2 separate regions of the Homo sapiens genome follow, and region 1 is linked to region 2. Evidence: fine-mapped expression QTL. Tissue or cell type: testis. Region 2 holds a variant in brackets; the other region holds the start of a gene. All regions are shown on one strand. Distances are between the middles of the regions.

The links. PIP is the estimated chance that this variant, and not a neighbour inherited with it, causes the effect. A credible set is the group of variants that fine-mapping cannot tell apart.
Region 1: IFT88 starts here. The variant in region 2 is the best candidate, but not a certain one, in a credible set for the expression of IFT88 in testis (GTEx, PIP 0.82).

The regions. Positions count from the first base shown.
Region 1 is chr13:20,565,135-20,570,134 of GRCh38, forward strand. It overlaps IFT88 (intraflagellar transport 88), which reads left to right and starts at 2,023. Exons shown (of 26, transcript NM_006531.5): 1 at 2,023-2,122. It overlaps LOC105370103 (a long non-coding RNA gene), which reads right to left and starts at 1,895. Exons shown (of 6, transcript XR_941725.3): 1 at 1,542-1,895; 2 at 367-416. RefSeq lists silencers at 1,723-2,132, 2,228-2,416.
Region 2 is chr13:20,682,957-20,693,767 of GRCh38, forward strand. It overlaps IFT88 (intraflagellar transport 88), which reads left to right. Exons shown (of 26, transcript NM_006531.5): 25 at 7,749-7,859; 26 at 8,098-8,488. The coding sequence ends at 8,219. Among named protein-coding and RNA genes, the nearest start is that of IL17D, 15 kb to the right of the region's middle. The variant TAC/T (reference allele first, on the strand shown) is at 4,451.

The DNA of each region.
Region 1 (5,000 bases), 120 kb before region 2:
CCACTGCACTCCAGTCTAGGCTATAGAGCGAGACTCTGTCTCAATTAAAAAAAACAAAACAAAACAAAAAAAGCTTAACTTCCTCGTAAAGCAATCTTTTTCAACTACCTGCTCCACCCTGACTCATTCTGATTACCTGCTCTGCCCTGACTCATTCTCCACCCTGACTCATTCCGATTTCCTGCTCTGCCATAACTATTTTTCCCACCAAACCACTTACCCGGTCACTCTCTTTAAATTAGTCAATCAGAATTAGTTTAGCCTGTGCCGTCTAACCTTAGCCAACAGGGGAAGGACACAGCAGCAGGTGCCACAAGCGTCAGGAATAAAAACCCCTTCGCCTCCCTTGTCCAGGTGTGTGCTCACCATTGCTCCATCTGTGAGGGCGCACCCTTCTATAGAAGTAAATTGCCTTGCTGAGAAGGAAAAAAGAAAATTTTATAGTTGAGTGCTATTTCTTTTGCGGCACCAAAACTTTATTTATAATGCTGGCAAGCCTAAAATTTGTAGGTCAAGTTAGAGACCCAGGAAAGAGCTGAAGGCAGTCTGGGGGCAGGATTCCTTCTTCCTCAGAGGACCTTAGTCTTTTCTCTTATGACCTTCCCTTGACGGGATGAGGCCAACCCACCTTGTGGAGGACCAACTGCTTTACTCAAGTCTAATTTAACTGTTAATCACATCTTAAAAAATACCAGCTATCATAGTACTCCAGAACAAAGGCAGTCAGTGTCTCTGCTCACAAAACACGGGAAAGTGCAGGTGACCCATGGAGAATTGTCCCCCAACACTATGTTTTTTCTTTTTTTGGATGGAGTTTCGCTCTTGTCACCCAGGCTGGAGTGCAATACCACCATCTTGGCTCACTGCAACCTCTACCTCCTGGGTTCAAGAGATTCTCCTGCCTTAGCCTCCTGAGTAGCTGGGATTTATTACAGGCGCCTGCCACCTCGCCGGGCTAATTTTTGTATTTTTAGTAGAGACAGGGTTTCACCACGTTGGCCAGGCTGGTCTCCAACTCCTCACCTCAGGTGATCCGCCAGCCTCAGCCTCCCAAAGTGCTGGGATTATAGGCATGAGCCACTGCGCCCGGCCAACACTACTTATTTTATAAAAACTCATTAATTACTGGTGTCTTTAGACTCCCTCTGTCCCTCCCCTCCATCCCCAACATTTACTTTTAAAATTTAAGACAAAACTTAAACATTAAACAATTATGAATTTAATTCCCCCATTTATATTACATTGATTAAGCTTTACACTATGACCCAGGTTCTAGGTGGTTGGGACACAATGGTTCAATCCCTGTCTAGTAAATAAAACGGACACCTTAAGCGCTACAATCAAGGTGCGCACGGGGTGCTACAGAACAATACGCAGACAGGAGGAGGTGGGGGGAAAGGTGAGACTTCCCAGGCAGGTGTCATCCCAGAATAACTTTTACACAGGGTGACTAAGCGAGTTAGTGACTGCGCGGAAAACGGGCTTCCAAGGTTCACAAGGCTCGTGCTGCGGCTCCGGGAGTTATGTCACAGTAAGCTTACTATCATCCTTTGGGCATCTGCTTTACGGATGAGTTCATCAGGATTTAAAGGATCTTGGTTCCATATCCTTCCCCTTCCTCACAGAGGCCGCCAGCCCGGAGCCCCTCTAGGCCCTCCTCCCTCCTGCATCTACTGGCCGCGAGCCTTTCCCTCCCCGCCCCCTTCACACAGGCCGCCCCCAGCCTCCCAACCCCCCGGTTCCGTTCCACGGGAGGCCCCGGCCTCCCTGCCCTCTCCTCCACCGTTCTACCCGCATCGCCCGGCTTCCCGCAAGCCGCTGGCACCGTCCCCTCAACACCCTCCGCCCACCGCCACTCCCTTCCACTGAGGGGGACCGGGCTGCCTTCTCTCTGACCCGCCGTTCTCCGCCCCCACCCACTTCCCCAGGCCTCCCGCACCACCCCCTTCCCGCCGCGCTCTCTCCCGCCCCCGCGCTTCCGGCCCCGCCCGCCCCCGCGCGGAGGACTGTGGGAGCGGCTTCCTTGGATTCCGCGCTTGGCAACGGCTCGGCGTCGCGCTTTGGCCAACCGCTGCGTCGTCCCTGGGCCCGAATAACTGTCGCCCGCTTCCCTCAGCGTGAGGTAGGAGAAGGGCGCTGGGGCCTAGTGCCTCAGGGCCCCTGGCAGCCGTGCCCCTGCGGCGTCCTGTGTGGCGCATCCCGCCGAGGGCCTCTTCGCCCGTCTCCTGCCCGCCCCTGTCGGCCCCGGGGCGGTCTGAGGCGGGGCCCCAGATGGACTCGGCCTGCCCCTGCTTTTCTTCCTCAGGCTCCCGAGTTGTCTACTCAGAAACGCGGGCGTTGTTTCTCACATCGGTGTCCCCAGCTCACAGGCTTTTCTTGCTCCTCTGAACTGGGACGGGCGTCGCTGACCGCTTGGCGATGTCCCAAGTCCCAGTCACGCCTGACGGGGAAACTTAAAACCCAGTTAGATTACTGCGCCAGCTCTGGAATCGCACAGCAGAGATGGTGCACATCGCTCTTTAATTTTCTTGTTAGGTGAAGCACTTCAAATTGCCTGATGAAAGTTGAATCAGGAATGAAGATAAAAGTACACAACAATGCAGAAAGCGGTACTTAGCCTCACAAAGATGGAAACATTCCAAAAACGTGAAGTACTGTTGTCCCAAGATTCTTTCTAAGCCTAAAATTACACTTTTACTAGTCCGATTTTCTGGTTGTGAGTTTTTTTTGTTTGTTTTTTTTTTTTCGAGAAACTGCAGTAGGCTTCTTGGAAGTAGACCAAGGGTGTCCAATCTTTGGCTTCCCTGGGCCACATCGGAAGAAGAATTGTCTTGGGCCACACATGAAATTCACAAACACTAAGGTAGCCGATGAGCTTTAAAAAAAATCGCAAAAAAGAATCTCATAATGCTTCCAGAAAGTTTACGAATTTGTGTTGGGCCACATTCAAAGCCGTCCTGTGCCACGTGCGGGCCGGGGTTGGAAAAGCTTGAAGTAGACTGTCCATAGTCAGTAGAAGAGTATTAAAAAACATACCTTTCACTTAAAAAAAAAAAAGGTTTTGCCAGCATTTGATTTATATTAAACATAGGTGGCATCATCCCCAGATTATTTCAACATGGAAAAGTTTGTTACATGTATAAGCTGCTTTGGAAATTGCCTGGAGAATCCAGAAACCCTGGGTTGTATAACAACAGTTGTTCTGCCACCCATAGCTATTAGCCATGCTTGATTCCCTTCAACTTTCCTGGCCTCACTTTCCACATCTTTTAATATTTGTATGTTCCACAAGATGTCTATTCAACTAAAGTCTCAAGTCAAACCTTTTAAAAATCTGGTTACAACCTAGCAGAAAGGATTTCTCATTCTAAAAGTTGCTTCCTTCTATAACTTATGTGTCAACTAAGCTGACTTAAATAGGGTTCATAATCAGAAATTATGGTTCAGAATAGTGGTTCTCAAAGTGGTCCCCAGACCAGTAGCCTCAGCATCACTTGGGTTTAAGAACCACTGGTTTAGTATTATCTGAGCTAAAGCTTTTAATTAAAAATATTTTATATATCTTTTACCAGTGACTTTTAATACCTTTTTTTTTCTTTTTGAGACGGAGTCGCACGCTCTGTTGCCCAGGCTGGAGTGCAGTGGCGGCAATCTCGGTTTACTGCAAGCTCCGCCTCCCGGGTTCATGCCATTCTCCTGCCTCAGCCTCCCGAGTAGCTGGGACTACAGGCGCCCGCCACCATGCCCAGCTAATTTTTTGTATTTTTAGTAGAGACGGGGTTTCACCGTGTTAGCCAGGATGGTCTCGATCTCCTGACCTCGTGATCCGCCCGCCTCGGCCTCCCAGAGTGTTGGGATTACAAGCGTGAGCCACGACGCCTGGCCCTTTTAATAACCTTTTGAAGCTATTTTGGAATGCCATTTCTATGTGGGTGACATTTGCCCTCATAGTAGTTAATTTTCATCTTCAAAAAGTAATGAGAAATTAACTCAAAATGGATCAATGACCTAAATATAAGAGCTAAAACTGTTAGAAAAAAAGCATAGGTATAAATATTCTTGACCTTAGATTAGGCAGTTCTTTCTTAGATATGATACCAAAAGTACGTGCAACCAAAGGAAAAATAAATTGTATATCATCAAAATTTAAAACTTTTGGCCAGGCGTGGTGGCTCACGCCTGTAATCCCAGCACTTTGGGAGGCCGAGCCGGGCGGATCACGAGGTCAGGAGATCGAGACCATCCTGGCTAACACGGTGAAACCCCGTCTCTACTAAAAATACAAAAAATTAGCCGGGCGTGGTGGCGGGCGCCTGTAGTCCCAGCTGCTGGAGAGGCTGAGGCAGGAGAATGGCGTGAACTCGGGAGGCGGAGCTTTCAGTGAGCCGAGATCGCGCCACTGCACTCCAGCCTGGGTGACAGAGCGAGACTCCGTCCCAAAAAAAAAAAAAATTTTTTTAAACTTTTGTGCTTCAGAGGATAGTACAAAGAATGTAAAATGATGTACAGAATGGGAGAAAGTATTTGTAAATCATTTATATAATGTTTAGTATCAGGAATATATACAGGATCCTTATAATTCATGTGATAACCTGATTTTTGGGAATGAGCTGGCCGGGCGCGGTGGTTCACGCCTGTAATCCCAGCACTCTGGGAGGCCGAGGTGGGCGGATCACAAGGTCAGGAGATCGAGACCATACCGGCTAATACGGTGAAACCCCATCTCTACTAAAAATAAAAATAAAAATAAAAATAAAAAAATTAGCCGGGCTTGGTGGCGGGTGCCTGTAGTCCCAGCTACTCGAGAGGCTGAGGCAGGAGAATGGCGTGAAACTGGGAGGCGGAGCTTGCAGTGAGCCGCGCCACTGCCCTCTAGCCTAGGCGACAGAGCAAGATTCCGTCTCAAAAAAAAAAAAAAATGAGCAAAAGATCTGAACAGACATTTCTCCAAAGAGATATAGAAATGGATAATAAGCAGATGAAAAGATACTCAACATCAT
Region 2 (10,811 bases):
TAAAGGCCAATTTTTAGGAATCATAGTAGGAGAAGGCAATCCTGGCTGCAGTGCCCTCATAAGTTGTATAACTGAATTAATGGCTCTAAGATCTGTCAACATTCTCCATTTACCTGATTTTTTCTTAATAACAAAGACTGGAGAATTCCAGGGAGAAAATGTTGGAGCTATGTGTCCTTTTTCTAATTGTTCAGTAACTAAGTCCTCTAAAGCCTCCAGTTTCTCTTTACTCAGCGGCCACTGCTCTATCCAAATTGGCTTACCTGTTAACCATTTTAAAGGTATAGGTTCTGGAGGCTTAACAATGACCGCCATCAAAAATGATCTAAACCCTGATGAGAATTCTGTCCTTCCGCTTGAAGCAGTTTCTTTAACCCTTGTAAATTTTTTCCTAATCCCATGCCAGGCACGTACCCCATCTCTTGTATCATATGCTGACTTTGAGGGCTATATAGTTGCTCAGGAATTAGAACTTGTGCTCCCCATTGCTGTAATAAATCTCTCCCCTATAAATTTATAGGTACAGAAGTTATAATTGACTGGATAGTCCCAGGTTGTCCATCGAGTCCTTCACAATGCAAAATATAACTGCTTTGATATACTTCAGGGGTTTTACCAACTCCAACTCTGTTAAATTGAGTGGGTTGAATTGGCCATGCGGATGGCCAGTGCTGTAGAGAAATGATGGAAATGTCCGCTCCTGTATCTACCAATCCTTTCATTCATTTTTTTCCTTGAATGGTTATTTCACAGGTAGGACATTTATCAGTAATTTGATTCACCCAATAAGCTGCTTTGCCTTGTTTATTTGTGCTTCCAAATCCTCCTGTTTGATTAATTTCACTTTTTCCCATTCCCACATACAGCACAGTCAGGAGCTGTGCTATACGCTCTCCTGGCTCTGCTTTCCAGGGAACAGAAGTAGATATAACAATTTGAATTTCCCCATTGTAATCTGAATCAGTGACTCCTGTATGTACTTGCACTCCTTTTAAATTTAAACTAGACCTACCTAGAAGTAATCCTACCGTCCCCACTGGCATCATCTGACTGGAGACAGCAACATTCTTTAACAGTCTCATTACAAAAGGAGAACCTGGTCCATATTGATTAATAGCTGGTTTAAATTCTTTGAGGAATTTAAAAGGAAAAGGCTCAAATGTAGCCATAATATTCCCCTGTTGATCAGGTGAGTATATTCTAACAGAGAACTGCCAAGCATCCATATCACCTTCTCATCTAGCTTGCTGGATTCCTGCCTAAATGGAACTGAGAGCGGTCGCTCGAGGCACTGCTGGAACAGTCACTGGGGCAGCTACTTTTTGCCCAGTGTCCTCTGGAAAAGAGAGATTTGGAGAGTCAGGCCACTCTTTTTCTTCAAAATAATGAGGGGGTATAGAGGGGTAGGGACAAACCTCTCCCTCCTTTGTCTCTTTAGCTGGCAAGCAAACCTGCTCTGTCATCTCTTCTGTTAGTTACTTCGTTACACTCTCCTTCTTCCTCTGATTCCTCCTCCTTGTCATCTATATAGAAAGGCTCCAAGGTGGAACAAACCACAATCCACACTGACCAGAGAGTTACAGGAATATCCTCAGCACCATCGTTGTATGCCTTTTTCAGTGTGCTGCCTACCTTTTCCCAGACCTCTACATTCATAGTTCCTCGGTCCTGAAACCAGGGGCAGTATTTCTCTACCACACTAAAAAGTTGCATAAGTCAGCTGGTGCTAACCTTCACTCCTTTTCTGAGGAGATGCCGAAGCAGACTCAAGCCTCGTGCCTGCTCGACCCTTGTCCCATTGTTACCCTGATGCTTCCGAGCTCCCCTTCTTACTCACCACAGGGATTGCTTAAGAGTACTCGGGTGTTCCCCAGCGTAGTTCCACGTTCTCCAACTGTCGCTTCGGGGCGACCCTTCGACCCGGGTTCAAGCCCCCATGTTGGGCACCGCTTGCCGAGACCAGCTCGGTCGTGGAGACCCTAACCCAGCAGCACTAGAGGAATTAAAGACACAGACACAGAAATAGAGTGCAGAGTGGGATCAGGGGGCTGACAGCCGTCAGAGCTGAGAGCCACAAACGGAATCTGACCCACATATTATTGACAGTAAGCCAGTGCTAAGCATTGCTTCTATAGATTATAGATTAGCTAGAAGCATTCCTTATGGGAAACAAAGCAATTTTAGCGAGGAGCAGAGAAACAGGCCCTGGCTGATTATCTGCAGCAAAAACACGTTGTTAAGACACAGGCTGCTCCTGCTATTGTTTATGGCTAGAGCAGTTTTCCGCTCCCGGGGGTGGGGGGGCCAGGTTTTCCTTGCCCTGCTCCAGTAAACCAACGACTTCTAGCAGTGTGTGTGATAGCCATCACGAGCATGCCACATTGCTGCAGAAATCCTTTTTATGGCCAGTTTCTTTAAGGCCTGTTTATGACAGGCTTAGGGCTTGCTACCAGCACAAACTAACCTATAAAATTAGCAATGAATTTTTTAAAAGGTAATTCCCAAGGGTAGCAAGGATGAGATGAGATGAGCACTGTTTATTAACTAAATTCTGCTGGGGGGAGTTCTAAGTGGCACACCCTGCTGGGAATGTTTGGAAATATTCATCAAGCCCTTTAAAATGCCCGTACCCAGCCGGGCATGGTGGCTCACGCCTGTAATCCCAGCACTTTGGGAGGCCAAGGCAGGCAGATCACTTGGATCACTTAAGGTCAAGAGTTCGAGACCAGCCTAGCCAACATGGTGAGACCCTGACTCTACTAAAAATACAGAAATTAACCGGGCATGGTGGCACACACTTGTAGTTCCAGCTACTCAGGAGACTGAAGCAGGAGAATTGTTTGAACCCGGGAGGCAGAGGTTGCAGTGAGCCGAGATTGCGCCACTGCGCTCTAGCCTGGGAGACAAAACAAGACTCCATCTCAAAAAATAAATAAATTAATTAAAATGCCCATAACCTTTGATAGGAACTTACTTTAAAGAAATAATTTTGTACACACATATTGATCACATTATTTATGGTAGAAACATTGGGAATAAACCAAATGTTCAACTGGAAATAATTCCAAGTTGAATTATGTTCTTCACAGTTGTGTCACCCTGGAGCAGTTATTACAGGCCCCTTCTTCCCCACTGTGGTGAGATCCCACATCGAGCTTCCTTGGCTGATCTTTAAGGGGGATGCTGTTGCCATTGGGAGCTCCATAGACTTGGATCACTTAACAGCTTTGAGAGATGATATAACTTCTAGAGACAATCTTATTTGCAGCTGGAGTGCAGTGAATAATAATCATCACACAATGTAGTTTCCTTTTTACTTTTCTCTAAGCAAAATAATGTTCATACAGAAATCAGTAAAATAAAAATGCAGGAAAGGCAAGTACTTTTATTGGATCTTTAAAATGTGTTATAGGTATGACATCATGGAAATTATTTATAGTGAATGCTTAAGGTAAAAGTCACCCACAGATTGTAAAGTTCCTGAAGGCAGTGGCTGCATCTCCTTTTGCCTCTGCTGGGTGTGAACAGCATAAGGTACTGAGCAGGAGCACAGTTAACACTCATCAGAATTTAAAATAGCATCGGTGGTGTTAAAGATAAAGAAATTGATACATTTTTTCTTATTTTCATTACTTATATAAATGTATTATGTACTCAGTTTCACAAAATCATTGTATTTAAATATGATAAAAATCTCTGCCGCAACCTGTTTAGAAAATTAGCAAAAATGAAGGACATTGCTTTTCATCTTCCCTGTACAGTTATTTTTTCTATCTTAAGTTTATTACTGCTATAAATTATTTTTATGCTCATAACCATATTCTTTCTAAATTAGTAAAGACTGTCTTTCCTTGGAAACAATTCATTTTTATTTGGAGAGAAATTTTCACCAAAGTTTATGTAGTTAGCCCCTTAACCTTACTTAATTTATTCTGTGAATAGAGCCTTTTATAAGACTCACTTTCTTGAACTCCTGGCCTCAAATTCTCCTCCTGCCTCAGCTTCCTGAGTAGCTGAGATTACAGGCTCAGGCCACCACACCCAGCTTAAAAGTCACTTTCTTACCAAAAAAAAAAAAAAAAAAAAAAAAAAACCTCATATTTAAAAACTACGTCACTCTAAAATGTTACAAATAGGTCATCTTCTTAGTATGCATTGCCTTGTAAAAACATTGGTCAAGTCGGGATGTAGTCGGCCACCAACTAGAAATGTGTTAAGATTTTTTTTGCAGACTTGCTTAATAAGGCAAGGAGGGGGTCAGGTTGTTCTGGGGCCAGCAGAAGGGTCTAAAATACAGGGTAGTGAAAAGAGATTAGAGATTGTGAGTTTCCTTTAAATGCTTAACTGTCATTATTAAGACAGCCACATTTTGTGGGGCGAGCCAAACTGCTGAGCTTGGAATAGCATATGCTTGGAATCTGAATATGAATAAGGCCCAGGTGCCACACTT[TAC/T]ACACAGATCCTTTGCTAAAGAGGCACTATTTGTCTAACAGGCAAGGACCAGGCTGGCAGTCAGGAAGGCTGGGTTTTGGTGCTGATCTTGTCACCAACTATGCACTCTTGAACAAGTCACTTCACTTCACTATCCTAAGCCTGTTTTCTCATCTGAAAAATAAAGGGGTTAGACTTAGCCTTTTAAATGACATTTTTGTATATTTCTACTGGCTATAAAATTATTACAAATATCTATGTCTGACGGTAAGATAGTCTAAATATTCAGGAAAACTCCAAGTATAGCTCTCCTAAAAATGATATGTTGCGTGTTAAAAAAAGAAAAAAAAGAAAAGAAGAAGGGGGAGGAAAAAATAAAATGAAAAAAACTTCAAAAATGCACGGCTGAGTTGGTAGCAAAGAAGGAAATTCTTTGGAGGCCAAAAAGATCTAGAAAGTTTAAATCCAATGTGCAGGAGCTGGCATTGCCTAGCTAATCCCTCATGATTGAGAACCTCAGATTATAGACACTCATGGGGACCAAGAGATAAGGCCTGGGGCCTCAAAAAGGCCAGAGCAGAGGTCGGATCAAAGAATCCCTGTCACAAAGCTAGGACTTCTCACTGGCAATACTCTGAGTAGGCCAAGTCGGAAAGAGGCCACTCTGGCCGGGCACGGTGGCTGAAGCCTGTAATCCCAGCACTTTGGGAGGCCGAGGCAGGCGCATCACCTGAGGTCAGGAGTTTGAGACCAGCCTGGCAAACAAGGTGAAACCCCGTCTCTACTAAAAATACAACAACAACAAAAAAATTAGCCGGGCGTGGTAGCGCATGCCTGTAATCCCAGCTACTCGAGAGGCTGAGGCAGAAGAATCGATTGAACCCGGGAGGTGGAGGTTGCAGTGAGACAAGATCACACCATCGCACTCCAGCTTGGGCAACAAGAGCGAAACTCCATCTCAAAAGAAAAGAGGCCACCCTACAGATGATGGATTTTCACCTTGGTTCTAATGTAGAAAACAAGAAGAGCTCTTTTGATAATTCCTAACCATAAGTAAGCCTTCACTCACATAGTTTTGGAGCTAGAATACATATTATATCTGTGTGTTCTGAAGAACACCAAGCTGAAAATTTGATTTAAAGTGGACTTCAGTTGGTGAGGCTACAAGGTGCCTACAAGAAATAAACTTAAATCCTCCTTGGAGGAATGCACTTTTAAGTTCCAAAGAATAAGAACCTACAGTTAAGAAAAAGTATGCATGCATGAGGAAATAAGTCACTAAGAGTAAGCAACAACAGAAACTATAGAGTCCAATCTTCAAAGACTACAAATATTGTAATTATTATTTATTTATATTAGAGATGGGGTCTTGCTGTATCACCCAGGCTGAGTGCAGTGGTGCTGTCATAGCTCATTGCAGCATTGGACTTCAGGGCTCAAGTGATCCTCCCATCTCATCCCCACAAGCAGCTGGGATAATAGGTGCATGCCACTCTGCCCAGCCAAGTTTTATTTTTTATATAAGCACTTTATTTTTATTTAATTAATTAATTTATTTATTTATTGAGACAGAATCTCACCCTGTAGCCCAGGCTGGAATGCAGTGGCACGATCTGGCTCACTGTAGCCTCTGCCTCCCAGGCTCAAGCAATTCTTCTGCCTCAGCCTCCTGAGTAGCTGGGATTACAGGTGTGCACCACCACGCCCGGCTAATTTTTGTATTTTTAGTAGAGACGGGGTTTCACCATGTTGCTCAGTCTGGCCCCGAGCTCCTGACCTCGTGATCTGCCTGCCTTGGCCTCCCAAAGTGCTGGGATTACAGGCGTGAGTCACCGTGCCCGGCCCCAGGTTTTATTTTTTAAAGGTTTGCTTTTTCCACAAAATTTGAATCTTTCAGGCTAGGAATTTGGATTTGGATTTCAGAAGGGTTTTGGGTGCCTGAGGGAGCTATCAGGGTTTTGTTGGTAATTTACATCTGTGTAAAAAGTGAAATAACGTTGTCGTATTTACTAATGAGGATGTGTTTCTGACATTCCACAGTATTCCTCAGTGAGCAGTTCTGTGAGGCATTTCCATCTTATCTCTGTAATGAGAACACCTACATTTTTGTGGAGACATTGGTTGTCATATCTTATGTACCCATGAGTCAAAGAACTGTGTATGCCCTTGCCCTTCGTTGACTGCAAACCCTAAGGCAAGAAGGCCTGTTTGGACCACTCCCTGCCAACTTTGTTTTATGTTTCTCACCCAAACTTTTCTTCTCACATACTCATTCATCTTTTAAAAGATTGCTATATAGTTATTGTGTATATATTTGGTGGCTTATCTTAAACCTTTTTGGAGACAGGTAGGATATACATTATTCAGAAAAAAAAAAGTAAAAGAAATATCCCTAGAGCAATGTTTTTCAAACTTTATTGACTTGAGCTCACTCAGGCAGTTTAAAAGACACCCGTATACATTTCTGCATGGAAAAAATTAACTTTTGTTTTAACAAAAAGAGAGGGACAAAATAATGTAAAATATACTAAAGTGTGTAGACATATTCAGTACACTAAAGAGCTTTATTTTCCCGTAACATCAGTGGTAGGGGAAATGGTAAGGTTTTGGATAAGAACCTTAGAGAAGACTTACTATTTTGGGTCAGTTGGCCAATCTTAAAATGTGGGGATTTTAAAGACCATCTTGTTCTGATTTATTCCCAGAGACATTATCAGTAAACTAAAAGACAAACTATATTCAAAAACGAAATGGTCAGTGTGTTTATCAGTGGACTACTCTCATTAAAAGTGAGGCTTACATAATAGAAAAAATATCACTCTAGGAATTCTAAGGGGAAGAAAGGAAAACTGTGGGGCTAGAGGAGTACTTTTAGAAAATATCACAGAAATTTCTGGTTAAAAAGTACTACTAACATTTCCTACTAATGTTAGTGTTCAGTTTTATCTGAAAATCCTCAGTGATACATATTACATTTTTTCCTAAGGCAGCCATTGCCTATTTGGGCAATTATAAGAGTCAGGGTGATCTCTTACTTTCTCTTAAGTTCTTCCATAAAATTGAAACCTATAAGTAAGCACACATTTGAAAGAATACATATACAGACTACTCTTAAGTGATGTTTTATCTATATTATAGATTCCCACAAGATATTTCTTTTAAATTTCAGAAAACAAGAATTATATCCCTAAGAAGCTGGCTTCCAAATTAAACAACCTGCTTGTTTCTTGGCAAATAAGTATGCTTTAAGATGCATAATGTAGTTTTATGTTTTCTCAACATATTAAACAAATGCATTTTTATTTTCGTGTTTTCAGATAGTGGCCAGAACTATAGTGCCAGTAGTAAAGGTGAACGACTAAGTGCCAGACTCAGAGCTTTACCTGGGACAAATGAACCTTATGAAAGTAGCAGTAACAAAGAAATAGGCAAGTACTCTCCACCCAGTTCCTCCAGGCATAGCAGGTCTGAAGAAGAATGGTGAGATGGCCAAAAGGTGTTGCTGGGAATTCTTAAGAATTTGATATTTACAGATAAAATTTAAAATGACTTGGGAGACCATTTCTGTTCACTCTGAGTTATTCATTTTGACTATGAGCCTGATTGGTTTCACATTTGTTTTGTTTGTTTACATAACTCTAACGTGACAATCTCTTCGAAACCTAGATGCCTCCTATGTGGACCCACTTGGCCCTCAAATAGAACGACCAAAAACTGCAGCCAAGAAAAGGATCGATGAGGATGATTTTGCTGATGAAGAATTAGGAGATGATTTGCTTCCAGAATAATATTCACTTTAATATTTATTAAAGGAAAGAAATTGCCTTATGAGATCATCCTCATGTTAAACCTTGGATTAAATATCTAACCTGTAATTATTTTTTTTCACTGTCAAAACTTAAGTAAGTGTATTCTATTCTGTATGTATGCATTTAAGTTGTTTTTTTCTTTTAAGGAATAAAAACAGGTAAAACTAATACTTTAGGCCAGTGACTTCCTTAGCTTTTTGAAAACATTGACACACAGGAAGAAATAAATTTCATAACACAACCTAGTACATATATGTGTATGTAGTCATAAAAATTTACCCTTATTATTGCAATACATGCTAATATTTTCTATAGTTTCATTCAAACAAAGTGCTAGTAGTGAAGCCACTACATTGATTTCATGGCTTGCAGATTGAAAAATGCTGTGTGGACATAGGCACAATTTCTATTCATACTTAAATTGCTTGGAGTTTGGAAATTCTTTGGAAGATTTGCCTTGTGGGGATTAGAAACACTATTAAAACAATTATGTTTTGGAAGCAGTATAAAGGGTAATGGGATTAAATACCAAACCATAACCCTAGTGCTCCTTTCCGAAGTTCCTTTCTACTTCAGCCCGGGGGTGTGCACCAATAGCACAGAGCAGTAACAACTCTAAGATGGCTTTTCCCATTTGTGACTTAGTGGGTTGGGGGCAGGACTGCCTGCATTTTTCTTTAACAATGTGTTTGGCTGGTCTAGAGTCTCCAGAGGAATTATAATGACGAGGATGTCAGAAGCAGTGGCTTATCTCTAACACTATACCAAAGAGAATGGACCCCTCAATCTTACTTACCATTGTCTCTGCAACGTGCATGCTACTGTTAGATGCGAGGGAGGAAAACCAAAACTAGACCACATTCCTTGCTCCCAAAGTAGGTTATGCTCTAATTGATGAGACAGCCAACAAATACAGTAAACATCCAGTATGTGCAGAGAATTCATTAAAATTTGGGGGATACAGTAGTGAAAAAGAACTATACCTTGCCCTCAAGAAGCTTAAATTCTGGTGGGGAGATGGAAAATATATTTTGTTTGTTTGTTTGGGTTTTTTTTGAGATGGAATCTCACTCTGTCGCCCAGGCTGGAGTGCAGTGGTGCAATGTTGGCTCACTGTAACGTCCACCTCCTGGTTTCAAGCAATGCTCCTGCCTCAGCCTCCTGAGTTGCTGGGATTACAGGCACGCACCACCACACCTGGCTAATTTTTGTATTTTTAGTCAGACGGGGTTTCACCATGTTGGCCAGGCTGGTCTCGAATTCTTGACCTCATGATCCACCCACCTTGGCCTCCCAGAGCTGGGATTACAGGCATGAGCCAGCGTGCCTGGCCAGAAAATATGTTTTTAAAGGACTCTAGATATTGTTAATTACAGTTAAGAGAACAAAATGGAGTAATGCAATAGGTAGTGATTATAGAGGAGGGACTCTAAGAGGTGGCCTTGGTAATAACACTAGAATGGTGAGAAGAAAGCAGTGTTCTGAGCAGAAGGAGCAGCAAGTGCCGCACACTGAAAAATGAATGATCTGGATGTGTCACAGGGTTATTGAGCTACAGTGATAGTGAGAGGGTTTGGGATCCAGCAGTGTGGGTGGTGTGCTACATGGGCAGGAAAGGGAAAGGAGATGAGATCCAAAAGGTAGGCAGGGTTCAGAGCATGTACAGCCTTATAAAGACAGTTTGGATCTTATTCTAGTTACTATAGAACACCTGCTAGAAGGTTTCATGCAAGGGGGGTGAGTGAAGTGCTTTCATTTAACCTTTAGAAACCAGTCATCACACTGGTCGCCATGAAGATGAAGTGGGCAAGTGGGATGGAAGGGAAGAGTGGAAACTACTAGCAGTAGCCTGGGTAAGAGATGAAAGCAATTGAGACAGGTTTTTAGCAATAGAAAATTGTGAGAAGTGGTCAGATTCAGCATATATTTGGAGGCAGAGCTGAGACTTACTAATGGATTGGATGTGGATTGTGAGGGAAAGAGAGGAAAAGATGATGCCAAAATTTGTGGCTAAGGAACGGAGTGGCTAGTGTTGTCTTTTTAGTAAGATAGATTTGGGGGGGAATAAGTAGATGTGTTTTACCCATGTTAAATTTGTCTCAAGCATTCAATTTGAGATGCGAAGAATGCAGTTAATCTTTAAAATCTGGAGGTCACAGAAGTGAGGGCTACAGGTAGAGATGTGGGATCCATCTATGTACACTTCGTACTTAAAACCATGAAACTGAATGAGATCAATTAGGTCTGAGAGTGAGGCTAGAGAAGAAGTATAAGCAATGTGCTTGTGAGTACCAGAGAAAAAGGATGGCTCAGCAGAAGAGACTGAGAAGAGCAACAAGTGATGTAGGAGGTTTCAGGATTCAAACTTCCAGTTCTGAGAAGGATGCAGTAGGTCATGGAAGCCCTCCGTAGCAGCTGGGAAAAAAAAACAAATCATTGCAAAAATCATGTCTTCAAAGTCTCTGGAGATCTGTGGAATCAATAAAACTAAAAATTGCAGAGAGGAAAGAGCCTTTTTTTTTTTTTTTTTTTTTTGAGACAGAGTCTTGCTCTGTCGCCCAGGCTGGAGTG